Linked DNA regions of Homo sapiens. The protein of the gene in region 7 purifies or fractionates together with the protein of the main gene of each other region. This does not show direct contact. Each region holds a gene or a part of one and is shown on either strand. Other genes may lie near its edges. The genes, in order: SARAF, CLTCL1, DHRS7, ANO5, NDFIP1, DAGLB and OR10H2.

Region 1 (4,472 bases), on a different chromosome or scaffold from region 7:
TTTTCACTTTCTTGATGATGTCCTTTGATAGTCAAAAGTTTTTCATTTGGATAAGATGCAGTTTTTCTTTTGTTGCTGTTACTACACTGTTTTTAAAATAATTTTATTTGGAGGAAGATTCATAGGTTTGTTGACTTAGGTAAATAAAACAAGCTAAACTTGTATTGGTATTTCATGTTAACTACCACTTCCTTAATCATGCGTACTTACAAGTAGCTTCTAAGTACTGTATTTAAATTTCAACTCTTGGAATAGAAGGAGTTTCTGTCCTGCTACTAAATGGCCTCTCTCCTGCTACTAAACATAAGCCAATGTATGATATGCTCAACACTCCTTTGCTCATGCTATTCCCTTCTCTAGCCTTTCCTCTCTAAAAATGTTATCATTCCTTCCTAACACAGCACAAATGTCTCATCCTTTAAGTCCCAATGGCTCCAACCAGACGTGACTTTATAATGTTGTGTTGGGACCTACATGTAATCTGAGTGCCTGTCTTACCTCTTCTACTAGTAAGACAGTTTCTTCATTCTACCTTATTCATTTTTGTATATTGCAATTAATACATGCTTAATGAATGACATCACCATTACTGCCTTTTTTTCCCATCAAGACTCTAAAAGTCATAAGTAAAGTGGAGTGAGACTTCTGCTATAACCCAGAGAATTCTATGATTCAACTTAGCAGTACTGGGGGAAAATATTGTGAAGTAAGTATCACCCAGTACACATCAACTTCCTCTCTGAATTGCAAAGACCACGCATAAAGGTTGTATCAAACAAGAATATCATTCTGATGGAGAGGGGAAATCGTCAACATAAGTTTCTTGCCTTGTGACCAGTCGTCTTAAATCAATTTTGAAAGCAGTCAGAATACAAAGTAGAAATATGTAACTAGTGATTTAAACTGAATTCATTTAATAAAATCTATCTCTAAAGCATATTCAGTTTTGGAACTTCAAGGAGATGCTCTGCTCGTATACAAAACACCAGCGTCCCAAAGGCAATCAATGAAACCTGCCGAAATGCTTCCTTTCAAAAGTAACCACCCTCAGTTCTAAGACAATTTTAAAATCAAGTGCTAGAAGCACAATAGAGATATATGAACCCCTACTATTTACGATCTATAATTCCTAATTATCTTAACTTTGTCTTAAGGGTAGGTTGGTATTCTTTGAGGAACGACAGGAAAATGACAACCATAAGATATCCCCTATCCCTCACCCTCAAGTATATAAAAAGTTGTGAAAATTTACAAATATCTTAGAAGGAGGTCACGATACAAAAACTAAAATGAGTATTTTCAGGCTTTAAAATCAGTTCATTTCTTTTGGAGGCCATTTCTTCCACAGGAAGAGTGATTGATTTACTTACATATTTTAGGCTGATCTGAGATTTCCGTAGGTGCACCCTCAAAAGACTGAATAATGTCCCAATAAACAATTTACTGAATAAAAACCCCATTTAGACTGCCATTACTGTAGTGGATATTACCTGTACATCATACCCATCCCAGCCTTTGTTCTGACACTGTATGACTTTTGGGGTATAAGAATCACAACCAGCTGTGCCTCCAACACATTTCAACTGTGGGATGGGATCCAGCCTGCGGGAGGTGGTATAGCGGTCATAGTGGAGGGTAAGAGCTTTTACATCCCGCAGCAACATTCTGTCTGAAACAGCAAGAAAACAGAGGAACACAAAGTAAGTATCGTGTCAGAGAAAGAAAGGTTCATCCTAACGAAACTCTCGTCATAGGAAATGCCTTTCTTGCCTTCTGAGGATGGCTAAGAGAGGATGAATCTATTTCTCAAAACTATCCCAACAACATTCAGGCCTTCTGAACAAAATTCAGGTCACACTTTTAAGATCTCCCTGCATTTCAGGCCAGATGCTTCTACAGCACAAGTTGTACATCATTTTTGCTAAATCAAAAGAACAAAAAGTTCATTAACCTGAAACATTGTACTACTGTGTAATAATAATAGTGGTTAATTAAAATGGCAAGAATATAAGCATGTTCCTGAAGCACATTTAATGCTTTAAATGTCCATCAACAGGTGAAGAAATTAACACATTCTGACCTATTACAGTGGAATATTACATAGCAGTTAAAATGAGTGAACTAGAATTCATGTATCAAACTAGATAGATGGCAAAAACATTTTAAACAAAATACAAGTTGCAGAATGTTTTGTATGACAGCTTTACATAAACCTTTAAAAAAGGCAAAACAGTACTACATACTGTTAATGTCTATATATGTATATAATAACAACATGAAAACATGTATGGGAAGGATTTAACACCAAATTCAAATAAGTATCTAGTCTAGGGAGAGAGAAAGAAAAGAGATTTTAGCTCTATTCCTAATGTTTTATTACTGGGAGTGGGGGATTTGTAGCAAATATGGCAAAATATAAAGATTCAATAAAACTGGGTGATGACTATGTGTAGGTTCATTGTACACTTCTGTATGTTTAAATACTTTAGGTATTTCATAATTTTAAAAATCAAAACTATTTAAACTATTTCACAAACTAAAAAATTTAAAACATACTGACAAGAGACTTTGAAAGGAGGAGTCAAAACAATAAAATTATGTCTGGCATTCATGTGCAAAAATGAAATTTTTAGGTTGGGTGTGGTGGCTCACACCTGTAATCCCAGCACTTTGGGAGGCCGAGGCACGTGGATCACCTGAGCTCAGGAGTTCGAGACCAGCCTAGCCAACACGGCGAAACCCCATCTCTACTAAATATACAAAATTAGCCGGGAGTGGTGGCACATGCCTGTAATCCCAGCTACTTGGGAGGGTGAGGCAGGAGAATCGCTTGAACCTGGGAGGAGGAGGTTGCAGTGAGCCAAGATCACACCATTGCACTCCAGCCTAGGCAACAAGAATGAAACTCCATCTCAAAAAAAAAAAAAAAATGAATTTCTATGCATTATTGGAAAATAAGGACAAAGTCTTCCTATTTATCATGTTGTGGATTATTGATGGAAGATGCTGTGGATTGGCTCAGTCAACATCCACTTCACCCTCAAACAGGTATGCCTTCCTGCAAAGCAAAAGGAATCCCAAAACCTCTTGCAGCTATAGTTGCCAAAAGCAATTTCAGTTCTGCCAACCAGAGGGACTCGAGCAAAATCTGGAAAGCAGACCCTAGACTTATACAGTGCTCTGTCCTTCAGCTAGTAAACACAGGCATGGAGACCATGAGTTTTCAAACTGATAGTATCCTCTAATCAGCTTCCTGGCTGTCATGAAGCTTGACATGAACAATCTATTTTTCAATGTGGCAGATGTAATAGGCATCGCTTTCTACCATTTTGTGAGTACCCAATTCCCTATATTCAACCTGTCAGATTAGCAGAATTTGCAGCCTCCCAAAATTCTACTAAAACTATAATAAATACATTGTTTTGATGATGTGAATGACTGTGGTCAGGTAAAACGAAAGAGGAGATGACAGCAGAATTTTGGAAGGAGAAAGTAAATGGACTAGTGGTAGATGACTAGACCTAAGTGAAAGACAAATGCCAGAACAGCAAAGGGGGAAACTGAGAATCAACCTGATGTACATAACAGAATCCCTAAAAAAAAACAAAAAAAAAAAAACAAAAAACGGGAAATGGCAGCTCTGGAATGGGAGATGCCTGGAATACACACTACAGGGTGAAAGCTACTTGAGAGGAAGCCATATTCCCAGATCCTCTCCCCAACTCCACACTGTTCTAACTCCCTCTTCCCCACTAAGGAAACTGTCTGGAGATGTATTCTCTGGAGAGGATAAAACTGAAGGGATTTGCATTGGGGACCATCTGGCATAGTAAAGGGCATGGGGACAAAAACAACCAAACAGGGAACCCAAGTGACTGTGTGCACTCTGACTGCTGAAAGCACAGTTCTCCTTCCCCACATGGTGCACAAAATGCTAACAGCCATCCCCTTGTCCTCTGTGGGAGACTGGATGACTATTCCCTTGGTAATCTAACCAAGAAGAAGTACCTAAATACACTGACATCAGGAACTTCCTCCAAAAAAGAGCAACCTAGGTCACCCTGTTGTGAAGTTCAAAATCAAAAGTGCAACTGCACACTGATAGCTTCCAATGAGCTTTTTGGTTCCCCAGAATTAACCATGAGCAGGGAGCCAAGGATTACTAAAAATATGAGGAAAGTCCCTGCTATGGTTTGAATGTGTCCCCCAAAGTTCACATGTTGGAAACTTAATCCCCAATGCAACAGTGTTGAAAGATGGAATCTTTAAGAGGGCTCTGCCCTCATGAATAGATTAATGCTGTTCTTGCAGGACTGGGTTAGTTATCGCAGGAGTGGACTCCTGATAAAAGGATGAGTTAGGCCCCTTTCCCCTCTCTCACTCTCTCCCTTCTGCCTTCCACCATGGGATGACACAGCAAGAAGGCCCTCACCAGATGCTAGCACCTTAATATTGAACTTCTCAGCCTCCAG
Region 2 (4,472 bases), on a different chromosome or scaffold from region 7:
TGTTTCATAGGTTGCAGATGCCATCCTTGGAAATAAAATGTTTACTCATTACGACCGGGCCCACATTGCCCAGCTCTGTGAGAAGGCAGGCCTCCTGCAGCAAGCACTGGAGCACTACACCGACCTCTATGACATCAAGAGGGCTGTGGTCCACACTCACCTCCTCAATCCCGAGGTACTGTGTACCCCTGGGCACTCCTATTATGGCTGTTGTCTATGCAATTAATGTCACATGCTCCCCAGTGTTCACCTGTTGGTGATTGTGGAACTGTGGCCTGAGCCTGTCACTGCCCTAACCTACCATACTTTACTACCAAAAGCAGTTCTAATTCAGCCCACGCACAAAGTTTATCTGCTCAGCAGCATGTCTGGGCCCTGTAGCACCTTTCTTTCTGATATCCACCTTTGACTTAGTCTAATAGCAGGAGTATACTGGTCACCTTTTAACATTGACAACCTAATAGGACTGTCTGAAACCATTAGCAAAGCTAAACTAGCTATTGTGTTCCAATTTATGGAATAAGTTTTAGCATCATCTGTGGAATATTCCAGGTGAACAGTTTAGATCAGTGTCTTTTCCCAGCTTTACTCCTTGCTCCTACTTTTTCCCGTGATGGATAGTTGCTTTTCAACCCCTTTATGTGGAAATTCTCTGTATTTTTGACACTCAGGGGAACAGGAGAATGACCTAGTTATTTTCCAAGTGTTAGCAATCTTTAGAGTGGTGCATCGTTGTGGACAGACTCTTCCTTGTTCCCAGTGGCTTGTCAATTTCTTTGGCTCCTTATCGGTGGAGGATTCTGTGGAGTGTCTGCATGCCATGCTGTCTGCTAACATCAGACAGAACCTTCAGCTGTGTGTGCAGGTGGCCTCTAAGTACCACGAGCAGCTGGGCACGCAGGCCCTGGTGGAGCTCTTTGAATCCTTCAAGAGTTACAAAGGTAAACCATGCAGCCTCTCGCCGACCCCACCATGTGACTACACCTCCTTTCTCAGGTGTTGCTGCCTACCTGCCCGCCTTAAGACGGCCTTCCTGCAAAGCCAGGCAGGATGCAGCACTGGCTGCCTTGGGTGCTCAGTCGGTGGCAGAATGCTACTGCCATCTCATGTGCACCCTCAGCTTCAGTAACCTTTTTGGTATTTCCAAAGGAAGAAATCAGGTTGGTTGGTGATGGGATGGAGAAACTTATGGAGCCCGGTGTGTCTACGCAGCACAGTCTGGCAAGAATTCATCTAAAAGCCTGTGTCGTGGGTACAGTGAAAGGGCCTGATGTCTGGTCTTTACAGCCCCAGGAGGGAGGCTCTTTGGGCCTCTCCTAAATGAGAGCCCACGATAGAGGGTGCATTGCTTTGTGGTGTCTGCTACCCAGTTGATTGTGGGGGGCTGACAAGGTAACCTGGTTGTCTTCCTTTCCCCTTCTTGGACATCACACCAAAAAAGTGTTCTAGGGCAGTTGGGATGGGAGTGGCTTTGTTAGGGACAGATGGGGGCTGTCTGGCCCACCCAGGATAGAGACTAAGCATTTGTCTAGGCATCAAGCCACTGCCATGTGTCCAGTGAGGTTGGGGCATCGGTGGAGGGTGGGACATGACCCTGTCCTCAGGGAACTGGCCTTCTCTTTAGAAGACACCCCTGTAGGAAAGACCATGGCAGACGATTGAGTGGAGCTGGGCTGGGAGAGGGCAGTAGAGTAGGTTGGTGGAGAACCGTCAGCCCAGGGGCTGCCCATTCCCTTCCTAGCATCAGGGTCTCACAGTTACAGTGAAAGACCTCGACAGGGAGGGGCCTTCTCAGATGTGTCGTACCCTGTTGTTACTGGTGCCTCCTGGCTGGCCTCTGTAATGATGAGGAACATCATTAGCCTCTGTGAATGCTGTCCTCTGGGGCTCACCCTGGGGCTCAGCATGTGGTGCCCATGTCACTGTCAGCTCTGTGTTGAGTTGCAGGCCTCCTCCTGGAGGCCATGGCTTATTTCTCTGTCCCTTGATGTGTCTTTTTAGAGAAGCAGTCCCACCACCATTTCAGATTACCTCAGTGGGAATTACTCTTGATGACGACTATCTAGGTATACCTGGGCCCACAAAAGGAATTTCACTTGTACCAAATATCTAGTATTTTACATCAAAACATGCCAGGTATACCTGCCAAATATAATGGAAATCCGACTAGCTATTTTTGGGAGCTGCCAAAACAGACAAATGGCATATTGATTATGAGTTCTGAGTGTGCTGTGGGTCCCTGGAGAGTGGAGCAGGGTCATCGAGGGAAGGTGGGCAGCAGCTACGGAGGAGACAGGCAGGTGTTACAAGGACAAAAATGGAATGGTCTCTCTTCATAGGCCTCTTCTACTTCCTGGGCTCAATCGTGAACTTCAGCCAAGACCCAGATGTGCATCTGAAATACATTCAGGCTGCCTGTAAGACAGGGCAGATCAAGGAGGTGGAGAGGATATGCCGAGAGAGCAGCTGCTACAACCCAGAGCGTGTGAAGAACTTCCTGAAGGTGTGTTCCAGTGCTGCCTCCTTCCATGAGCTGCCCTTGCTGATGGCAGGTGGGGCAGACCATCCGCAGGACGTCCCAGGGGCAGGAAGCTGGATCTGTCTCGCCAGGGACCCCTTAGTCCCAGGGACAGAGCTCCACTTTATGGCTTAAAGTTCTAAAGTAACCCTTCTATCGTTTTAAGAGTGTGGAAAGCAGCTTGAGGCTGTGCTCTAAGTATCTGGCACTTATTGCTGCATTGTAATTCATCAACATCCCATTAGTGCCATTGTCAATTAGGCAGGCAAAGCTGCAGAAACAAGTAGACCACTCAGCACTAGTGTCATAAAGAACAGGAAGCCTACTTCCTTATGTGGCAGTCCAGGGTAGGCTGGAGGTCAGTGGGGTGACTTTCCTTCCCACTGTACTTCAAGGACCAGCTTCATGGCTGCTTTGCCGTGTTCAGCACCTCACCTGGATGTCGTCTTCCCAGTCAGCTAGAGGAAGGGAAGAGCACAGAGGAACCAGCATAGGTGGTTTTTATGGGCGAGGCCTGCAAGTGGCAGATGACACTTGGATTCACGTTCCATTGGAGGAAATGAGGTCATGTGGCCACACTTAAAACTTCAAAATGTGATCTAGGCACGGGACCACATGAGGGGAGGCATGATTGTGGTGGCCTGTGGCTGTCCTACCCAAGTGCCATCATCATCTGGGAATGGTGGCCGGGTGTGTTTCCATGGCCTGCGGCTGCGTGTCTGAAAAGGCAGCCCTTACCGCAGGTGTGCTGTTCTTGAGAATGGCCTGGTTTCTGTTGGGTTTGCACATAATGAGCTGCTTGTCTTAAAAGATATTTTTGTCCAGATTTGGAATGTTAATGCCAAATGTAGCAGTCTTTAACCAAATACTAATATCTTTCTCTCACTTATTTCCCAAAGCAAATGCCATACCACAAAACGACAGCCTATTTAGAGCAGTCTCATTCTGAGTCTCCTGTGTGTCACTCTGCTGCAGAGACAGAGCCGTCCCATGTGTGCAATGAGTCCGAGGTCTGGCTGTCTGGTTTCTCCACTCCCTGACTTGTTCTGTGCATTCTAATCCTCAGGAGGCCAAGCTCACAGACCAGCTTCCCCTCATCATCGTGTGTGATCGTTTTGGCTTTGTCCATGACCTTGTCCTATATTTATACCGCAACAACCTGCAGAGGTACATTGAGATCTACGTGCAGAAGGTACTGCTGGCTCCCTGGAGTGACACCCGGCTGCCTCTGGGCCCCAGTCAGTGGCAGTCTTCCCCTCAGAGGCTGCCTGTAACACCTGACATTTCAGAGACTATCATTTTGAAGGGTGGTGGGTTCGTGTGCTCAGACTGCCAGAGTAGAAGACCACAGTCCAGGCAGCTGAAACAACACACATTTATTTCTCACAGTTTTGGAAGCTGGAAGTCCATGATCAGGGTGTCGGCAGGGCTGGTTTCTGGTGAAGGCTGTCTCCCACGCTTGCAGACAGCCTCCTGGCTGTGCCCTCACAGGGCCTTTCCTCTGTGCATGTGCACTCCTGGTGTCTCTTCCTCTTCTTAGAAGGACACTAGTCCCATTACATTAGGGCCCCACCCTTGACATTGATTACCTTCTTAAACACCCTCTTTCCAAGTAGAATCCCACTAGGGGTTAGGACATCAGCAGGTGAATTTTGGTGGGACACAGCGCAGTGCTAAACAGGAGCCCTTTCAGGGTTTTGCCCAAACTGTCCACGTCGTAGGAGGCTTCTAACAATAACTTGTGTTTGCAACACTGAAGTTACTTGACCTTGACTACCCTAGGTCAACCCTAGCCGGACCCCAGCTGTGATTGGAGGGCTGCTTGATGTGGATTGTTCTGAGGAAGTGATTAAACACTTAATCATGGCAGTGAGAGGACAGTTCTCTACTGATGAGTTGGTGGCTGAAGTAGAAAAAAGAAATAGGTAAGGTGTCCTTACTTGGTGTTTTCTCT
Region 3 (3,362 bases), on a different chromosome or scaffold from region 7:
CCAGGGACTAGAGAATTTCAGTCCCACTGTAGTAGTACTTCCAGAAATGTCCATATGAAGGATATTTTGTTTTGTTTAGAGAATATCTAACTGTAAAATATAAACATCATTTAGCAAATCTCGCATTTTTTTTACATCTAGGTTTTTCTAAAAAAATGACAGCCTTTTTCTTCCTACCACCATCTTTGAAATATTGCTTATTATATAGTCTTACTACTTTGTCACTCTTTATTATAAGCTGGGCATTCTGTCATTTCTCAAAGCAATTTTTAGGACATAATACCTCATTCTTTATAGTCTGTACTCTTCCTCTCTCCCACTATTTTATATTTTATATATATGTATATATATAAATTTTCTTATTGATAAGCGTCTAAGTTAAGAAAATGCTAGCATAGCTTATTTCAAGCTAATAGTACTTGTTAACTAGAATTTGCTTCTTTAGTCTGTATGTCTGGAACTTTGTTTTTATGAATCTTTATTATTTTTAGGGATCAAGAACAGTGGCTACACTGAATTTTGTATTATCATTATTATTATTTTGTCTTTCTTAGTGCAAAGTTTTGAAAGTGGTAAATGCATATCTTCTGAAAAGAAACATCACATCTTGGGGATTATCAGGTTGCCTTGTTTTATTCCTTAAGCAATATACAAAAAGTTCACAAATAATTTTTTTTTCTTTTTATTTTTTTTGAGACAGAGTTTCCCTCTTGTTGGCCAGGCTGGAGTGCAATGGCGCAGTCTCAGCTCACTGCAACCTCCGCCTCCTGGATTCAAGCAATTCTCTTGCCTCAGCCTCCCGGGTAGCTGGGATTACAGGTGCACACCACCACACCCAGCTAATTTTTGTATTTTTAGTAGAGATGGGGTTTTGCCAGGCTGGTCTCTAACTCCTGACCTCAGGTGATCTGCCCACCTCGGCCTCCCAAAGTGCTGGGATTACAGGCATGAGCCACAGTGCCTGCCTGGCCACAAATAATTTTAAAGAGTTATCTTCCATATATCTCAATTCTACATAATCTGACTCATTGTTTTTATTTATTAGGGCAAGTCAGTGTAGGTATGATATGCTGATCCAGAAAAGTCATTATAGAGAATTTAGCATTGCAGTCCAATGCTATTTATACCTCCTCTAAACCAGAGATGATGCTAAACTCATTAGAAGTACTTTTGTGTACATCTAGAATTTTGGCTATGATTTTTAAATTCTAATTTAAGCAGTTTCTGAACTTTTGTAAAGATTCTTAATAGTGAATCATAATGATACAGCTCCTCAAAACAGAAGGACTTAAATGTTAAAAACTGGAGTAAATAGGAGTAGGTACTGATCCATGTTTCTGTCCCTCTTTTACAGGATGCAGACTCTTCTTATTTTAAAATCTTTAAGACAAAACATGACTGAAAAGAGCACCTGTACTTTTCAAGCCACTGGAGGGAGAAATGGAAAACATGAAAACAGCAATCTTCTTATGCTTCTGAATAATCAAAGACTAATTTGTGATTTTACTTTTTAATAGATATGACTTTGCTTCCAACATGGAATGAAATAAAAAATAAATAATAAAAGATTGCCATGAATCTTGCAAAAAAGGTATTAACTCATACTATATTCTTGGATAAAATAACCTTTTAAAATACTTTAGCACATATGCTTAAAATCTAAGTTAACAGATTTGTCTTAGTCCATTTGTGCTGCTATAACAAAATACCACAGATTTGGTAATTTATAAACAACAGAAATCTGTTTTTCCTGGCTCTTGAGGCTGGGAATTCCAAGACCAATGCACCAGCAGAATTAGTGTCTGGTGAAGGCTGATCTCTGCTTCCAAGATGGCACCTCATTGCTGCATCCTCCACAGTGGAGGAATGTATGTCCTCACATGGTGGAAGGGACAGAAGGGAAAGAGGAGCAAAATGCTTTCAAAAGAGCATTTAATCTCATTCATTACTCAGTCACCTCTTAAAGGCCACATCCTTTAATACTGTTGCTTTGGGGATTAAGTTTCGACATGAATTTTGGAGGGGACAAAAACATCCAAACCATAGCAACATAAATGTATAGAATATTTCACACAAAGCAGAGTGCTGGGTAATGACCAGATATAAAGAAGTATTTGAAATGACCTTACCTCCAAGATGCTTATACTCTTAGAAAAGTTGACAGGTACAGATGGCTGTAATTTGAAGCAGCAGGTAGGATTCATTGCACCTATTATTCATTAAACACCTGTTGTATGTCTTCTACTGTACTGGAGTGCTTAGTATTAGTTAATTAACTCATTCCTCATAACAGCCCACTAAGATAGATGGTATTACCTACCTTGATAGATGAAGAAAGACCAACAAGGTTTTACTTTTCCAAGGTCAAGGTCACAAAGCTAGTAAGGGGTAAAGCCATGATTAGATTCAGCTCAGGAAGATTCCACTGGCAACTCCTTACTTCTACTATTATTAATTTTACTTTAACATTTAACACCTTACAGCAGAAAACATGCACAGGCACTAATAGGAAATCAGCAGGAGTAACAGGTAAAGAAAAACATGGTCCTTATCTACAAGCAGTTCACAATTGAGCTGGAGCCAAAGTAACATACATAAAATAACTGTAGAATAGTTGTTGGGCAAGTTGGAAGCCACCCAAGTGGCTGTCCTTGGAAAAGGGGGAAGATGACATGTGGTAGAGGTACACGATGAGGTATAGCGGGTAGAAGCAATGGAATAAATGCATACATAACAACATGGATATGTACTAGAGGCATAGTCATAAGTGAAGAAATAAAGAAGCAACGCTAACACAATACTGTTCACATACACAAATATATGTGCACAGAAGATAGTGCTCATTTTGCAAGAAAACATACAACCTAATTAGATATATATTTAGGTATGGTAATAGTTACTTAGGATGGGGAGGAAACGGGGTGAACTATGGGGATAAAATATAATAAAGAGAGGACTCTTGCGTGACCAGTGATGAAAACTGGAATAACAACATTATTTATTGAATACAACACACCAATTATAAGAATGAAAAGATTGGAATAATTCTAGAATGCCACAAAATAACATATGTCATGTGGCCTGGTACAGACTATAAGCATAATAGTTCAGAAAAGGGAGATTTGCAGATAGAATCATGTGGAAGCCCTTCCTGATGAAGGTGTCACTTGCACTGGGCCTTGAAAGAAAGGAATTTAGACAGATGAAGAGAAGCTTCAGGAGGCCAGGTTCCAGGTCAGTTTTGTTTTATTCATCACTGAATCTCCAGTGCCTGCCTAGCATTGTGCCTGCTGATGTCTGTTCAACTACTCCAGCCAATGAATGGTAGAAGAGGTATATATAAATTAAAATCTTTAAAGATT
Region 4 (4,472 bases), on a different chromosome or scaffold from region 7:
AAACATTATGAGATAGACATACCACTTATGACAGCTGAGAGCTTTGAATTTATGTCATACTCTTGCAATGGATGCTAGGAAATGTTTTGTTTGCTTGAGTACATTACTACACCATATAATTGAGGTTCTATTAGCAAAGAAGGAGGAGGAGGAGGAAAGATATTTGTCAGTAGCCTGTAGCCTCTGCTGTATTAGTCACCCACCATTAAGTCTTTCCTATTTTATTAAAGGACATCTTCTCAAATTTCTCATGCTTAGGAGTCTTCTATTTCATCTTAACATAGTTTTATGAAAATAGGTATATTTTCTAAAACAAAGTAAATTTAGTGATAAGAGTGCATTGTTCTACTTTAAAAAAAATCTCTTTGATCTCTGGCCTGATAAAATATAGGTATTCTCGTATCTGCATTACATTCACTCTGTTGTGATGTGTTGTGTTTTGGTTGAAGTGTATGAAAAAAATCTGGCCTCTTAGAGATCTATAGTTGAAAAGGGAGGATAATTTTAGAAAGTTTTTGAATAATTATGGATATTCTTCTCTGATTTGCCCCCAAATTCAACGAATAATAGGTTCTTTAAAGTTAGATATAATGTAGAATTTGAAACCATTGAAATGAACTTTTATTTCACTGCTGCATTAAAATCTATTGGTCTGTCCTTCACTTTAAATGTATCTTTTTCTCATGCATGGTTTTGTAACATCATGTATTGCTTATTTGGAAAACAATTATCTACTGAGTTATACAGATCTTCCAAATGCTGACATATTTCATTTTAAAATACCAAAACGTAATGCTAACATCATCACTGATCTTATCAGGAATGCCTTGGGAATCTGTTAAGCACACAGTGACGGTCATAAGTTTACAAAAATTATTTCATTTGCAACTCAAATTTTGTCATTGGCAATAAATACTGTCAGGTGTTTTCCATGAAGTGATAGATTCATGTCATTAATGTTTGAGGTAATATCTGACAAATAGTCAGGTCTGTATGACTCTATATGTTTTCCCATCATACTTTCAACTAAAATGGTGTTTTATGAAAAATTTAGCTACTTTACCTTGCAATGTAAAGTACTTTTTCATGAGGCAACCATGGTACTTTGGAATGCAGCATCAGCGCTTCATGCATTCTTCCTGTTTCTTTATAGATTATTAAAAATTTGTGTGTTCAGGGTCAAGATTTTATAAACTTCATAAGCTTTACTGTTTATCAAGGACATTTTTAAGTTAAACTACATTTTTGTTTCTTTTTGTACTGAGAGTGCATGATGGTGGAGAATATAATGACTACTAATATAGTCTGGTGCCATAGCCTTGATTCACATGATGGCACCAGCAGTTTTATCCCATTGTTTTTGCATCACCAGTGCAAACGTCAACAGAATGAAAAAGACAAATATGGTTTTAATATTATTATAAAACTTTAAATACAAAATAAAATGTATAAATTTGACACATACAAAAAGTAAAATAAATTGTATCTTGATGGGGGATGGCAGACAGTACTTTAAAATTGCTGATATAGGATTTGAATTATCACCTAGAAGGAGAAGTTGTATGGGTGTGTTTTGTATGGGTGTGTTATGTATGTGTGTGAGTACTGTTGTCTCTCAGTATCCACAGGCATTGGTTTCAGGATACCCCACTGGTACCAAAATCCAAGGATGCTCAAGTCCCTTATATAAAATGCCATAGTATTTGCATATAACCTATGCACATCCTTGTGCATGCTTTAAATCATTGCTAGATTACTTATAATATGTAATACAAAGGAAATGCCATGTAAATATTTGTTATACCTCTTTGCACAGTGCCTGGTGCATGGCAAGTTATCATTATATTTTGGCTTTTCATTTGCAGCCACAGTGAAAAACTTGGCTCCCTTGTCAGCTCGCTCATTCAATTTTTCAATAAATGTTTATCAGCCGTCTTTCATTTGCCAATCAGTGTGCTAAAAGAACAAAATCAAAAATTGTGCTCACTTTTCAGAAACTTATCTTCTTTTGCGGATAAAAAGATAGTAATTAAAATGCACAAATATTCGTGTAAAATTGAAACCCTGACAAGTGCAAATAGAGATATATCAGATGCTTTGAACTAGCCAGATATGTGAAAGAAGGCTTCCCTGGGGAGAGAGTGACTTTCAAGCTGATATCTGAAGGATGTGAAGAATTACCCAGGGCAAGGTGGGGAGAGAGAGAGTGTGTTATTCCCTTTTGTGCTGTTATAACAGAATACTACAGACTGGGTAATTTATAAACAATAGAAGTTTATTTGGTCCATGTTCTGGAAGCTGGGAAGTCCAAGGTTGGGGACCACGTCTGGTGAGCCCCTTCTTGCTGTGTCATAACATGGTGGAAGGCATCACTTGGTGAGAGAGCATGCACACATGAGATGGCCTAACTTTCTTTCATAACAAATCCATTCTTGCTATTACAAATCTATTCCTGTGATAACAGTGCTAATTCATTTATGAAGGCAGAGCACTCATGACCTAATCACCTCTTAAAGGGCCTACCTCTCAACATTGTTGCATTGCAGATTGTTTCTGACACATAAACTTTGGGAGACAAATTCAATCCATAGCAGAGAGCATTCCTTACAGAGGAATAATTGTGTGTTAAGGCCCCTCAAAGAGGGAGAATGGAACTGAAAGAAGGTATAAGGATCTGAAAGGAGACTAGTGGGCCAGACTTAAGAGCGTGAAAGGGTGAGGTTGGAGAGGTTGGTTGGTTTTAGTTAATTTTAAAGAATTTTATTGTTTGCCAAAGGCAAAAAACTCATATCAAGAATGACCCCATCTTATACTAGCAAAGCTATGACCCATAAATCTGCTTTTTAAAATAAAATAAAATTATAAATAAAATAAAGCTTTCTTACAAACCAGTGTTTATTTTCACATACAGCCTCGTTTTAACCAATGTACAGATCAAAACTCAAAATATTCCTCTGCAGAAAACTTTGGACTTTATTCCCTAGCTGACCTATAATGGTTGAATTTCTGTCAAGTATAAATTTATGTATATAATGGGCTTAATTATTTAAGAGAATAACTGAGGGATTTGTGTGATCTTTGAAAAGGAATTGGACTGTCATACTTGGGTTGTGAAAAAGCTATACAAATGGTAGATTTTTTAAATTTTTTTTTGACTTATACAATTGCTTTATTTTATTATTTTTTACTTATAAGAACAAGCATTTATTTCTCACAGTTCTGGGTGCTATGAAGTCTAAGATCATGGTACTGAACTCAGTGTCTGGTAAGGGCTTGTTTCCTGGCTCATTAATGCCATCTTCTTACTGTGTCTTCACATGATGGAAGAGGGAAAGCAGCTCTCTGGAATCTCTTTAATAAGGGCTCTAATCCCATTCATAAGAGCTCTGCACCATGAGCACATTCAGACTACAGCACCTGAAATACTTAGTGTTTTTTGGCTTTGTAGACACATCATTCTGATTTCTGCTTTTATCTTCACACTGCCTTCTTCTGTGCCTCTGTTCCCTCTTCTTTTCTTAGGAGGACATCCATCATTGGATTTAGGGCCCACCTTAAATCCAGTATAACTTCATCTCTAGATCATTAACTAATTACATCTGTAAAGACTACATTTCCAAATTAGGTTTCAGTCTGAGGTTTGAGATGGACATGAATTTTGGTGTAGGAGAGACATTAGTCAACCCCTACAATAGGTCAATATCAAGTTTCCATATAATAAAGTGTCTTGTTCTGGGCTCTCTGTTCAGTTTCATTCGCCAGTTTTTCTATCGTATTTCTAAAATTATGGTCACTAACTTGAACTTAAAGTGCTAACATTTTATGTGGTTCCCATTGTGATATTTTCTCCAAAAAAAATATATAGGAAGTTTTTGACTTAAATATATCTTAGGGCTTTTTCAAGTTGGAACCACTAGAAAATAAGAATTTCAGTTCTGTATTTAACTTTTTTAGTGTCATAAACTTACTTGAACATGTATTTTAGTGCAAACGACTAAATGCATTACCATTACGGAGCTATCTGTATGTCGGGAAAGTACTCTGGCCTGTGTAGAAACTGGTAGTGTTCTATATACAAGCTGTCTGGTTTGATTTCAGGAAAATAAGGTGAGAGAATATGAAATCTCATGTGGTGAGAACTAAAACATATGAATGGACACCCTATTGGGTATTTAACTCTCAGTGGTTTTGTGGTTATAGGTTGATAACCACATTGATCAGAGTTAAGTTTATTTCTCAGTAATTGAGATTGTATTTTACACATCAGTATTTTATGCTTTTCCTGTTATAGGCAGTTTTAGGTAAGACTTCTTTTGGAGTCTGTTTTAAACAATTTAGCTCCGAATCATCTTGTATCTTTTCTTCTAGTATTTTTTCTTTGAATTTTTTAATTCATTCAATTCCTATTTTTTCCTTACACAGACTTTTGAATATGTTCTGATCAGTGGCTAATTTAACATGTTTTTCTCTTT
Region 5 (4,472 bases), on a different chromosome or scaffold from region 7:
ATGATGAGGTAAATTACTAGTCAGACCTGCTCATTTTTCCTTCATCTCTCCTATTACCACTACTTTTTCAAGTCTCCTGGGATGGCTGAAGTATCTTGAAGCAGAAGCACACTAATGTTTCCTTGATTCTGCACACTTAATATTTTGCTGTTGGGTGGATAGCTGCTAGGGAGGTCTAGGAAGAGAATAAATATATGCAAATTTGTAGAATTAAACTCATAAGAGGGATCTTCACATTGATTTAGATGAACTCCGTTCTTCCAGCAGTCCAGATCATGTCATTTGTGGGGACATAGTGAGTTCAGATTCCATCTAGCCTGATGTTGATTCATGGAGGTGGAGATTGGGATGCCATATAAACCAGTGGAGATTATTGGGCACTCTTGGTTCTTGATGTCAGATATGTGAGTGCTGCATTTGTCATTTTGTAAATATTCATCCAGATTGAGGCTGATGAAGGTAGGGCATTGTGGGAGAATGGAAGCAGGATAAGTCCCCAGAAATGCGGGGACCATCAGGCCTCTAGGCTCTATTCTAGCAAGTAACTGGAGTGAGTGATGAGCAAGTACAGAAGCCTAGTCTGGGCAGTGTGATGGCATAGGCCCAGATGTTCCCCTCTTGGCTTTAAGATAGTAGACAGTTTGCAGACCACACCTACTGTGAGGAGCGAAGCTCCTAAAATCATTGCTTGGTAGAAATAGTTTATGAGCCCAATCTAGGATGATCCTAAATGGCGATGATGTGCATTCAGTTCTTACAGGTACCAGGGAGAAACTAAAAACCCTAGTGTCTAAGGGCAAGACCATCATAATGTAACTGCCGTATATTGGAAGCAAACCACATGCTTGGTACTGTGCTTGATGCTTTTATATATTTTGTATATTGTTTCCAATCTTCATAGTAACCTTGAAAGGTAGAGATTATATTATCTCCATTTTACAGATGTGAAAATTTAGGTCCAGAGAGAAAAAGTAATTTTCCCAAAGTCATATGACTGATAAGTAGCAGAAGTGAAAGTCAAACCCAGATATTCTAGAATCCAAAGTCCTTGTTTGTTTCACTGTACTCTGCAGATCTGTTGCAATATATGGTAAATAGATCAGTATGGAAATTAGCTCTGATTAATCACATAACTCTTCAGAATACTTTCATTTGATACAAGTACATATTTAGGAACTTCTTAAAGGGCTCTAGTATTCAGCAGACATGTATAAAGCACTTTTTAAATATAAGATGCAGTATATTTTACAGTGGATAGGTAAAAAGCTTTGTATAAGGCAGTGTTCCTCATTGTTATTCAAAAGCCTAAAATCCAACTAGGGTAAAGGGCCCACAAATACTGATAACTAAGACACATAAGAGCAGTGGGCATCAAGAACTGAAACTTTTTACTGGGTGATCATAGGGGAAAATGAGATTTGATGTGGGCCCGGAGTTTTGATGGGTAAGAACATTCCAGAGGGAAAAAGGCACAGAAAGCAGGTGTGAATTCAGCCAGGTGAAGGCAGTTCTGTGGATGTAGTAATTGGCTTTGTATGAGCAAGAGTTTGTGAAGGGAGATAGAAAGTCCTGACTACAACTGTTGTTTATAGAATCTTTGGAATGTTAGATGGGCGTATTTAAACTTCATATGTAGCTTTTAGAGAATCCTTCAGAGTTTTTGAGCAGGGGTATGAGAGGACTTGTGTGGTGTTTTGGAAACATTAACTTGGCAGCAATTTCTAGGATGCATCATGGTAGAAGAGATACCAAGAGGACAGGAAGAACAGTTAGAAGGTGTTCGTAATATTATTAGATGTTACTTCCATATATTTTTTGGAGTATATCTTTGAATAGTTATGCAAAAAACAATTAGCTTTTAATTTTGGCAAAACCTTATTCTGCTGATACGAAGTAAGAATACTAGGTATTTAATGTTTTAAAAAATTAATTATAAAAATTCGTTTTTATAGAAATTTCAAACAATAGAGGAAGTATGTTAAGTTAGAAAAGGAAGCTGCCATTGCCACCGACTTCCCTTTCTCTAGTTCCCACTCCCCAGGGGAACCACTGTTAACAATTTGGGTCTTCCAGACCCTTTTCTGTGTACAACAAGTTTTGATATTCCCTAAAATATTTTTCATTTAAGGAGCCCTCATTGAACTGTGTACAAATCTATCACTTTTAAGTATATATTCAATTATTTTTAAATATCTCAACACACACCTATATCAGTTAAAAAGATAGCCCACATGTGTTGGTATTGTTCATGATCATGTTATTTCTAGTTTTGCAATATTACGTTATCAAGTTAGGATGGAAAAGATCTTATCTGCTGATAAGGTTAGAAGTGAGATTTAGATCTGTATACCAATACAAATACATGCTTATGGAGTTGAGCAGTGGGCAGTTCTGTGGACTATTCATGTATGATCGTACTATTCTTTTTTCCCCTATATCAGCCTCGTAAAGCACTTGAGCTGGTTGATTTTATCTTTTTTTTTTTGAGACGGAGTCTCACTCTGTTGCCCAGGCTGGAGTGCAGTGGTGGGATCTTGGCTCACTGCAAGCTCTGCCTCCCGGGTTCATGCCATTCTCCTGCCTTAGCCTCCCGAGTAGCTGGGACTACAGGTGCCCGCCACCACTCCCGGCTAATTTTTTTGTATTTTTAGTAGAGACGGGTTTCACCATGTTAGCCAGGATGGTCTCGATCTCCTGACCTCGTGATCTGCCTGCCTTGGCCTCCCAAAGTGCTGGGATTACAGGCATGAGCCACTGCACCTGGCTGATTTTATCTCTAATTACTAATATTTTAGGTCCTAAACAGGTCCTCGATTACTGATATTCTAGAATTTAAACCAAATGTGTAAGTAAATTTTGTCTTTTGTCTTTTCTTGAGGTATATTTTTTTAAAGGAAGAGTAAATAGTTCTTTGTGAACTATTCTTGAAGTGTATTGTTTTTGAAGTGTATTAAATTTTTGAAGTGTATTGTTAAAGAACTTGGGTTATAAGATGAAAATTTCATTTAGAACACTGGGGATAGAAGAAAGATTTGCTTCTTTTCTAATTATATATTAATAATGCAAAATGGAATTTTAAACACACATTGAGCCTTTAATGCTCATAATTTTGAACTGAACCAAAGCAATAACTTTTTTCCTTGCTACTCAAATTTAACCCTTCATTTTTCTTTATGTCTTCCCTTTGCCTAGAAATAATTCTTTTTCTTTTCATTTAGGATGAGGATTTTGTGGGTCGGGATGATTTTGATGATGCTGACCAGCTGAGGATAGGAAATGATGGGATTTTCATGTTAACTTTTTTCAGTAAGTATGTATGCATATCAGAACCACCCCCTACAAACTAGAGTGCTTTGGATTATGGGTGAATCTGACTGAATTAAAATAACTAGTTGAGCTAATATATTAATACATTATGTTTATTTGGTGCCTTTTACTGGAATATTCAAAGCTTAATATACCTTTGTTTTAATATCCCTTCTCTTTGCCTTCTATTTTCATGAATATCTGTGGAAAATATAATTAAAGCAGTTATGAGGATGCTGCATTTTTACATGAGCTAAGCCTCATCTTCCAGGTCTACGGGGCCCTTTTGCGTTGCTTCTACTCATACTTAATCTGTAGAATAGGAATTAAATGCCTTTGATGAATTTTGCTCTGAAAGCTTCTTTTTTCTGACAGATCAAAGTCAGCCTGATTTTCTCCCTTCATGTTACTTGCCATTTATCTTTTTGTGTGCCTCACATAGAAGTGAGCAACCATTTCCTTTATTTGTTGTATTAGAAAGATAAGAAAATGCAATGCTTTTAGAGGTGATGTTATATAAGTTGTCAAAATTCAGAGAACAGGAGGATGAGTGACTTGAATCAGATTATTTGGGGGCACTTATTTAATGTTGAAGGCATTTATTTTATTTACTGGACTATATATATATAACACACACAGTAAAAAGCAGAGGTCAGGCTGGGCATGGTGGCTCATGCCTATAATCCCAGCACTTTGGGAGGCCGAGGCAGGCAGATGCCCTGAGGTCAGGAGTTCGAGACCAGCCTGGCCACCATGGTGAAACCCCATCTCTACTAAAAATACAAAAATTAGCTGGGTGTGGTGGCAGGCACCTGTAATCCCAGCTACTCAGGAGGCTGAGGCAGGAGAATCGATTGAACCCGGGAGGCAGAGGTTGCCGTGAGGTGAGATCGCACCATTGCACTCTAGCCTGGGGGACAAGAGTGAGACTTCGTCTCAAAAAAAAAAAAAAAAAAAGAGGTCAAAGGCTGGGCACAGTGGCTCATGCCTGTAATCCCAGCACTTTGGAAGGCTGAGGTGGGCGAATCACCTGGGGCTAGAGGTTCAAGACCAACCTGGCCAACATGGAGAAACCCCATCTCTACTAAAAACAAAAATTAGCCGTTAGCCGGGCCTGGCGGTGCACGCCTATAGTCCCAGCCACTCGGGAGGCTGAGGCAGGAGAA
Region 6 (4,472 bases), on a different chromosome or scaffold from region 7:
AAAAAGTCTAAATCTGACCAGCCGTAGGAACTTGGCTGAAGTAAATTGTGATATGTTCACACAGCACAAAACGGTGTAGCTACAGAAAAAGCCACAGAAATGTATCTGTGGAAAGATGTTTGGTTGTTTTGGGTTTTTTGTTTGTCTGTTTGTTTTTTGAGACAGGGTCTCACTCTGCTGCCCAGTGGTGCGACGATAACTCACTGCAGCCTGAACTTCATGTGTTCCAGCGACCCTCCCACCTCAGCCTCCCGAGTAGCTGGACTATAGGCGCTCGCCACCAAGCCCCGTTAATTTTTTTTTTTTTAGTAGAGTCAGGATCCAGGCTGGTCTTGTATTTTTATTTTAGTAGAGACTATGTCGCCCAGGCTGGTCTTGAACTCCTGGGCTCAAGTGTCCTCCTGCCTTGGCCTCCCTAAGTGCTGGGATTACAAGCGTGCGCCACCACACCTGGCACCTGCTTCACGTCAGGCGCTGTGCAAGGTGCCAGGAGCACAGCCATGCACGATGGACGTGGCTGCTGATTCTGCAGTCTCAGATCCCAGGAGAGACTCACACATCAGTGCACAGCGTCATCCCATCTTTGAGTCTCTGCTGGGCCTGCCTTGTCTGAGGATTAACGGCCACCTTCTTTGTCTGTGTTTTTAGGGTATTTCTCAAGCTGCCAGATACGTTTACCAACGACTCATCAACGACGGGATTTTGAGCCAAGCCTTCAGCATTGCTCCTGTGAGATCTTAGTTAACGTTTCTTTCCTTGTCCTCTTTGGAGCTGTTGTTTTTACCCTTCACCTCATTCTGCTGTCTGTCCTCTAGGAGTACCGGCTGGTCATAGTGGGCCACAGCCTCGGGGGCGGGGCGGCCGCCCTGCTGGCCACCATGCTCAGAGCCGCCTACCCGCAGGTCAGGTGCTACGCCTTCTCCCCACCCCGGGGGCTGTGGAGGTGAGCCTTTGTTTTCCTGCTCTAACAGCTTGCTACTTACAAGTCATGTGGTCAAGACTCATCTTTTTTTTCTTTTATTTTCCTGAGATGAAGTCTTGCTCTGTCGCCCAGGCTGGAGTGCAGTGGCGTGATCTCGGCTCACTGCAAGCTCCACCTCCCAGGTTCAGGCGGTTCTTCTGCCTCAGCCTCCCGAGTTGCTGGGACTACAGACACCCGCCAGCATGCCGGCTAATTTTTGTATTTTTAGTAGTGGTGGGGTTTCACCATGTTGGCCAGGCTGGTCTTGATCTCCTGACCTCAAGTGATCTGCCCGCCTCGGCCTCCCAAAGTGCAGGGATTACAGGCGTGAGCCACCGCACCCAGCTGAGGTTTGTGTTTTGAAGCGCTATTTCACAGAAGAAAGTCTGTCTAGCCTTTCTTAGACCTATGTGACCATACCTGTAATTTCCTCAATGATTTAATTCTAAGAGTCTTTTTTCAAACAGACTTTATTTTTTAGAGCAGTTTTAGGCTGACAGCAAAACTGAGCAGCAGATTGTAGGGATCTCTCATACCCTCCCTCCCCACAAGCAAGCACAACCTCCCCCATTCTCACAGCCCTGGCAGAGGGGTCCGGTTGTTGACATCCATGCGCCTGGTAGGCACATCGCCCAGAGCCCGTAGTATGCTGAGCACTCCCTCCGCCCTCTCGGGGGGCATATGCCCTGGGTGGGGACACATGCATAATGCACATGTTTAAAGACATTTTTATGAGTTTGAAAATTACTTTTTTTTTTTTTTTTGAGACGGAGTCTTGCTCTGTCGCCCAGGCTGGAGTGCAGTGGCGTGATCTCGGCTCACTGCAACCTCCGTCTCCCAGCTTCAAGCGATTCTCCTGCCTCAGCCTCCCGAGTAGCTGGGACTACAGGCGCCCGCCACCACACCCGGCTAATTTTTTGTATTTTTTTAGTAGAGACGGGTTTCACCGTGTTAGCCAGGATGGTCTCGATCTCCTGTCTTCTGACCTCATGATCCGCCACCTTGGCCTCCCAAAATGGTGGGATTACAGGCATGAGCCACCACGCCTGGCTGAAAAGTTTATATTTTTTTTTGCTGATTCCAGCATACTGACTGTTCTGTGTAACCTTTTGCCATGATTATAAAGGAAAATTATACCACTTTATTTCATTAAAATGAAATAAAGGCCAGGCGTGGTGGCTCATGCCTGTAATCCCGGCCCTTTGGGATGATTAAAAAGTATGTACGTAAAGAACAAAAAGAGCTTTTCTTCGCACACTTGGTTTCTTTGACATATAGTTCACACAGGAAAAAACAGGAGAATGTATAAGTGCTTAAATCTTTCCCTCAATAAAGAAGTGTTCAGAATAATGAATTGTTGCCTAGCAGTCTACAGAGGCAGACATTAATTTTTTAAAACTTAAATTTCAGTCGTCTGTTTTCTTGCTGTCTTTTTTTTTTTTTTAATTGACACAGAGTGTCACTCAGTCTCCCCAGCTGGAGTGCAGCAGCACAGTCATGGCTTGCTGTAGCCTCTGCCTCCTGTGCTCAGGTGATCTTCCGGCCTCAGCCTCCCAAGTAGCTGGGACCATAGGCGCACACCACCACATCCAGCTAATTTTTGTAAGGAACAGGGTCTTGCTATGTTGCCCAGGCTGGTCTTGAACTCCTGGGCTCAAGTGATCCTCCTGCCTCACCCTCCCAAAGTGCTAGGATTAAAGGTGTTGAGCACTGTGCCTGGCCTCATTTTCTTGCTTTCTCAAGAATATTCTCAAGTTTTGGGCTTGAAATGAGCAAGTATTTTTTTTTTCCATCGTCCATATCTGGAATCAACCGTTTCTCCAAGGAATATTGGTTCCTTTTAGCAGGAAATGGTATTTCTGAACTGAAATCGGGGCACTGGTAGTTCTCATTACCACAGGGCTGGTCATAATTTCCAGGCCTTTTCATTGGAAAGAGGTAGGAAAGGCTTTTGTTACACCAAAGAGAAAATGTAACTGTAGTGTATAGTGATACTTAAACATCAGGAGGCTGGGCATGTTGGGTCACACCTGTAACCCCAGCGCTTTGGGAGGCTGAGGCAGGAGGATCACTTGAGCCCAGGAGATCGAGACCAGCCTGGGCAACATAGACCCGGTTCCTTACAAAAATTAGCTGGACGTGGTGACGTGTGCCTGTGGTCCCAGCTACCCGGGAGGCTGAGGCAGTAGGATTGCCTGAACCCAGGATGAAGAGGTTGCCGTGAGCCGAGATCGTGCCACTGCACTCCAGTCTGGGTGACAGAGCTACACTCCGTCTCAAAAGAAAAAAAAAAAAAATTGGCCGGGTGTGGTGGCTCACACCTGTAATCCCAGCACTTTGGGAGGCCAAGGCCGGCAGATCATGAGGTCAGGAGATCAAGACCATCCTGGCTAACACGGTGAAACCCTATCTCTACTAAAAATACAAAAAATTAGCTGGGCGTGGTGGTGGGCGCCTGTAGTCCCAGCTGCTTGGGAGGCTGAGGCAGGAGAATGGCGTGAACCTGGGAGATGGAGGTTGCAGTGAGCTGAGATTGTGCCGCTGCACTCCAGCCTGGGAGACAGAGCGAGACTCCATCTCAAAAACAAAAAAGTCCTTTCTGTCACCCCAGAGGTAGAATGTGGTGGTTTTGACTGGTGTTTCCATTATGTCCATGGCTGGAAGGAAGCGTGTCTGTGTTCCTCTCCTCCTGTTGATGAAAGCCTGCACCTTTTCCCTGCTCTTCTGTCTCTGGTCGTGGCTGTTCACTTTCACCGCATGTCCTGAGATGACCCCGCAGTGGCACACACAGTCCTCCTCCTTCTCCCAGCTGTGCGGGACGCACTATTATGTGACTCGTTGTTGGGAGCTGAAGGCAGTTCTGTGGATGGGTGTTTGGAGGCTCCAGCCTCTGCCGGTGCAGGTTCTGCCGCAGTGAATCGCCTGTTGCCTCTGCCCCTTCATTTTTGCTGGGGCATCTTTTTTTTTTTTTTTTCTTTTGAGATGGAGTCTCGCTCTGTCGCCCAGGCTGGAGTGCAGTGGCGCGATCTCAGTTCACTGCCAGCTCCGCCTCCCGGGTTCATGCCATTCTCCTACCTCAGCCTCCTGAGTAGCTGGGACTACAGGCGCCCACCACCACGCCTGGCTAATTTTTTGTATTTTTAGTAGAGACGGGCTTTTACCGTGTTAGCCAGGATGGTTTCAATCTCCTGACCTTGTGATCCGCCTGCCTCGGCCTCCCAAAGTGCTGGGATTACAGGCGTGAGCCACTGCACCCGGCCTCCAGTGCATCTTTGATGGAGTCTTCCAAGCGCGGTTTCTGGGTCAAAGGACAGATCCATGTGCTTGGTCCGCCTTGGTGTCCAGTTTGCGGTTTTAGCTGCGGGGCGTCTCTGTTGAACACATATTGTGGCTTTAGTAGGATCTGGCCAGTGAGTTGCCATAACTGACGTTTCCCCTACCCTCCCTTTAGAGAAGAGAGAACAGAGCTGAGGCCTGGGAACCTAACCCCTCAGTGTTACTGATTTCTTTC
Region 7 (3,771 bases):
CATGGTGGCAGGCATCTGTAATCCCAGCTATTTGGAAGGCTGAGGCAAGAGAATCACTTGAACCTGGGATGCGAAGGTTGCAGTGAGCCAAGATCATGCCACTGCACTCCAGCCTAGGTGACAGGGTGAGACTCTGTCTTGAAAAAAAAAAAAGATGATGTACTGATACAAGCTACAATGTAGGAGAACTTCAAAAACATTATGCTCAGTGAAACAATTCATCTGAAAATAAAAGAATTATATTTACAGTTGTCCATTGATGTGAAACGTCCAGAAAAAGCAACTCTAACCAGACAGAAAGATTAGTGGCTCCCTAGGGCTGGAGGGCATGGAGATTTGGAGGAAACAGAGAGTGACTGATAATGAGTATGGGTTGTTTGTTTGTTTGAGACAAGGTTTGGCTCTGTTGCCCAAGTCAGAGTTCAGTGGTGATCATGGCTCACTGCAGCCTCGAACTCCTGGATGCAAGCAATCCTCCCACATCAGCCTCTGGAGTAGCTGGGGCTACAGGAATGTGCCACCCCATTTAGCTAATTATCAGAATTTTTGTGTGTGTCAGGAAGGGGAACATCACAGACTGGGGCCTGTTGTGGGGTAGGGGGAGTGGGGAGGGATAGCATTAGGAGATATACCTAATGTTAAATGACAAGTTAATGGGTGCAGCACACCAACATGGCACATGTATATGTATGTAACTAACCTGTACGTAGTGCATATGTACCCTAAAACTTAAAGTGTAATAAATTAAAAAAAAAAGAACTTGTGTGTGTGTATGTGTTTGTGTGTGTGTGTAGATGGCATCTCACTATGTTGTCCAGACCGATCGTGAATTCCTGACATCAAACAATTCTCCCACTCAGCCTTCCAAAGCACTAGGATTTGGGTTTCTTTTTTGGATGACTAAAATACTCTAAGCCAGATTGTCATGATGGTTGCATAACTCTGAATACGCAAAAACCACAGAAATGTGCGCTCTAATGGGTACATTGTATGGTAGGTGAATTACATCTTAATAAAGCTACTATAACTCAAAAATTAAAACTCAGATAAAGACATACAGATCAAGAGTTGTGGAAGTAAACATGCTTTTAACATTTACTGAGCACCTACTATGTGATGAGTGTTGTCATATACAGAAATCTTTACACCTGCCTTACAAGGTAAGCATTACTAGCCACACTGTGCAGACAAGGTGATGGTCATCCTCCTATCATATTCTATCAGCACTTCCACACCAGCTACTCAGGTGCCTGAGGAATAGAGTGTGCTGAGGAAGGTCCTCTTCATGGCAACCTTCAGTTCTTTGTTCCTGAGGCTGAAGATGATGGGGCTGAGGAAGGGCGTGAGGACTGCGTAGGTGGTGGCCATCAGGGTGTCACCCTCCTGAGAGTGGGGACCTTTGGGCTTGAGGTAGATGACAGAGGCAAAGCCATAGTGCACAATGACCACAATAAGGTGAGAGGCACAGGTGGAGAAGGCCTTGTTCCGACCTTCAGCAGAAGGGATCTTCAAGATGTCGGCCACGATGAAGGCATAGGAGAGGAGGATGAGGAGAAAACAGCCCAGCAGTGCCATGATACATACCAAGCCCACGCCCAGGGCCACAGCTGGTACATTATTTCCACAGGCCAACTTCAACAGAGGTGGCACATGACATAAAAAATGCTGGATCTCATGGGATCCACAGAAAGTCAGTTGGAAAATGGCCGAGGTCACCACCATCCCCATGACCGAGCCACCAGCCCAGGAGCAGCCCACCAGGCAGGCGCAGCCCCGTGGGCTCATGAGCACGTTGTAGCGCAGGGGGTGGCAGATGGCCACGTAGCGGTCGTAGCCCATGACGGTGAGCAGGAAGGAGTGGGTGAAGCCGAAGCTGAAGGAGAAGAACATCTGACTGGCACAGGCCAGGAAGGCGATGGAGCGCTGGGTGGACAGCAGGTCGGCCAGCATGCGCGGGATGATGGCCACGGTGTAGAGGATCTCGGAGACTGAGAGGACGCACAGGAAGAGGTACATGGGCGTGTGGAGGCTGCGCTCGCTCCAGACGGTGGCCATGATGAGCAGGTTGCCCAGCAGCGTGAACAGGTACATCAGCAGGAACAGCAGGAAGAGCATCAGTTGGAGGTGGGGGAAGGCAGAGAAGCCGACGAGGATGAATTCAGACATGGAGGTGTGGTTTAGCCCCAGCATGACGGCCACCCCTAGTTGGGGAAGAGAGGAAAGAAGACCCAGTGGTTAGGAGCATGGGGGTGTCTAGTGATTCCTGCCTGGGAGGACATCTGAGAGCGCCTCCTTCATCTGTCCAAGCCATGGTTACTCCATCTGCAGAAAGGCATTAATAATAATGTATTGAGGTTTAAATAAGATCACTCACCTTAAGTGCTTTGTGCAGGTCCTGACACAAAGTAAGAATTTAATAAATTATAAATGTTGATAGTAATAATTATTCTGCTATTGTTATTGCCATCACGATTATTAGATCCATGCACCACCACCTACACCTTGCTTTTCTGCCTTTGTTCATGCTGGTCTTTTCATGCTTTTCCCTATCTTTATGGGTCCAAATCCTACCTGAATTTTATGAGCAAGCTGCTCCCTGATTGCCACCTTCAGCTGGAAGTCATCTCTTCCCTATGTCATGGAAACGTCCAGACTCTGTTTAATTCTCGGCACCACTGCTTTCTAGCTGTGAGATGCAGGGCAGGTTGCTTCCCCTCTCTGAGCCTCATTGCTCCCCTGGAAAATTGAAACCACCTTTGCAAAATTATGACTGAGACAGCGAAAGAGATCTAACTTAACCAACTCCATCTTGCTTCTAACCTCCAAGCTGTCCTTGTTCATTCCAGGACATAGGGTGAACTAACTTTGGGGGAAATTTAGTTTATAGTTTATAGTTTATAGTTTGGAACAAGGACGATAACAGCCCTTTCCCAAAGCAGACCTCCTTCTTGTCTGGGGATTAGATTGCCTTTGTAGAACTAACATTAGCCACAAGATTAGAAATTATGGTTTAGGAGTCATGCAGCTGGAGGCTACAAGATTCTGACCCTCCCTAAATTGCTCCCAAGATCAGTGCTTGAGATATTTTGCAGATCCTGCACTTGATGGATCAGCTGGCACCACCCAGGTCGATAAACTGGCTCAACTGATCTTGTGGCCCCCACCCAGGAACTGACTCTCCGCAAGAAGACAGCTTTGATTTCATCTCTGACCAATCAGCACTGCTGGCTCACTGGCTTCCCCTCCACCCACCAAGTTGTCCTTAAAAACTCTGCTCCCCAAGTGCTCAGGGAGACTGATTTGAGTAATAATAAAACTCCAGTCCCCTGCAGAGCCAGCTCTGTGTGAATTACTCTTTCTCTATCACAATTCCGCTTTTTTTTTTTTTTTTCTTTGAGACAGAGTCTCACTCTGTCCCTGCTGGAATGCAGTGGCATGATCTCGGCTCACTGCAACCTCCGCCTCCTGGGTTCAAGCAATTCTCCTGCCTCCGCCTCCTGAGTAGCTGGGATTACAGGCCCGCATCACCACACCTGGCTAATTTTTGTATTTTTAGTAGAGATGGGGTTTAACCATGTTGCTCGGGCTGGTCTTGAACTTCTGAGTTCAAGTGATCAGCCTGCCTCAGCTTCCCAAAGTGCTGGGATTTATAGGTGTGAGCCACCATGCCCAGTCAAAAACTTCTTAGCAGAAAATGGTTATGGTCCACTGACCTCTAGGCTATGGGCCCAGCATGCTTCCACTACGTGACTCTGCTGGTCTCCTCCTCTT

What was found.
Region 1: the proteins of OR10H2 (region 7) and SARAF purify together in Homo sapiens (affinity purification with mass spectrometry; one large-scale study listed by BioGRID and IntAct). This does not show direct contact.
Region 2: the proteins of OR10H2 (region 7) and CLTCL1 purify together in Homo sapiens (affinity purification with mass spectrometry; one large-scale study listed by BioGRID and IntAct). This does not show direct contact.
Region 3: the proteins of OR10H2 (region 7) and DHRS7 purify together in Homo sapiens (affinity purification with mass spectrometry; one large-scale study listed by BioGRID and IntAct). This does not show direct contact.
Region 4: the proteins of OR10H2 (region 7) and ANO5 purify together in Homo sapiens (affinity purification with mass spectrometry; one large-scale study listed by BioGRID and IntAct). This does not show direct contact.
Region 5: the proteins of OR10H2 (region 7) and NDFIP1 purify together in Homo sapiens (affinity purification with mass spectrometry; one large-scale study listed by BioGRID and IntAct). This does not show direct contact.
Region 6: the proteins of OR10H2 (region 7) and DAGLB purify together in Homo sapiens (affinity purification with mass spectrometry; one large-scale study listed by BioGRID and IntAct). This does not show direct contact.

Annotation. Positions count from the first base shown.
Region 1 is NC_000008.11:30,072,387-30,076,858, forward strand, and holds part of SARAF (store-operated calcium entry-associated regulatory factor isoform 1 precursor), read right to left. Parts: intron 1,670-4,472; coding exon 1,491-1,669; intron 1-1,490. UniProt on the Homo sapiens protein: Negative regulator of store-operated Ca(2+) entry (SOCE) involved in protecting cells from Ca(2+) overfilling.
Region 2 is NC_000022.11:19,221,922-19,226,393, reverse strand, and holds part of CLTCL1 (clathrin heavy chain 2), read left to right. Parts: intron 1-10; coding exon 11-175; intron 176-760; coding exon 761-941; intron 942-2,339; coding exon 2,340-2,503; intron 2,504-3,584; coding exon 3,585-3,710; intron 3,711-4,300; coding exon 4,301-4,443; intron 4,444-4,472. UniProt on the Homo sapiens protein: Clathrin is the major protein of the polyhedral coat of coated pits and vesicles. Two different adapter protein complexes link the clathrin lattice either to the plasma membrane or to the trans-Golgi network.
Region 3 is NC_000014.9:60,143,006-60,146,367, reverse strand, and holds the end of DHRS7 (dehydrogenase/reductase SDR family member 7 isoform 1 precursor), read left to right. Parts: exon of another isoform or gene 1-1,354; coding exon 1,355-1,402; 3' UTR 1,403-2,249; downstream 2,250-3,362. UniProt on the Homo sapiens protein: NADPH-dependent oxidoreductase which catalyzes the reduction of a variety of compounds bearing carbonyl groups including steroids, retinoids and xenobiotics.
Region 4 is NC_000011.10:22,199,318-22,203,789, forward strand, and holds part of ANO5 (anoctamin-5), read left to right. Parts: intron 1-4,472. UniProt on the Homo sapiens protein: Plays a role in plasma membrane repair in a process involving annexins. Does not exhibit calcium-activated chloride channel (CaCC) activity.
Region 5 is NC_000005.10:142,132,512-142,136,983, forward strand, and holds part of NDFIP1 (NEDD4 family-interacting protein 1), read left to right. Parts: intron 1-3,218; coding exon 3,219-3,306; intron 3,307-4,472. UniProt on the Homo sapiens protein: Activates HECT domain-containing E3 ubiquitin-protein ligases, including NEDD4 and ITCH, and consequently modulates the stability of their targets. As a result, controls many cellular processes.
Region 6 is NC_000007.14:6,413,098-6,417,569, reverse strand, and holds part of DAGLB (diacylglycerol lipase-beta), read left to right. Parts: intron 1-648; coding exon 649-729; intron 730-815; coding exon 816-943; intron 944-4,472.
Region 7 is NC_000019.10:15,726,463-15,730,233, reverse strand, and holds OR10H2 (olfactory receptor 10H2), read right to left. Parts: upstream 2,211-3,771; 5' UTR 2,191-2,210; coding exon 1,243-2,190; 3' UTR 1,182-1,242; downstream 1-1,181. UniProt on the Homo sapiens protein: Odorant receptor.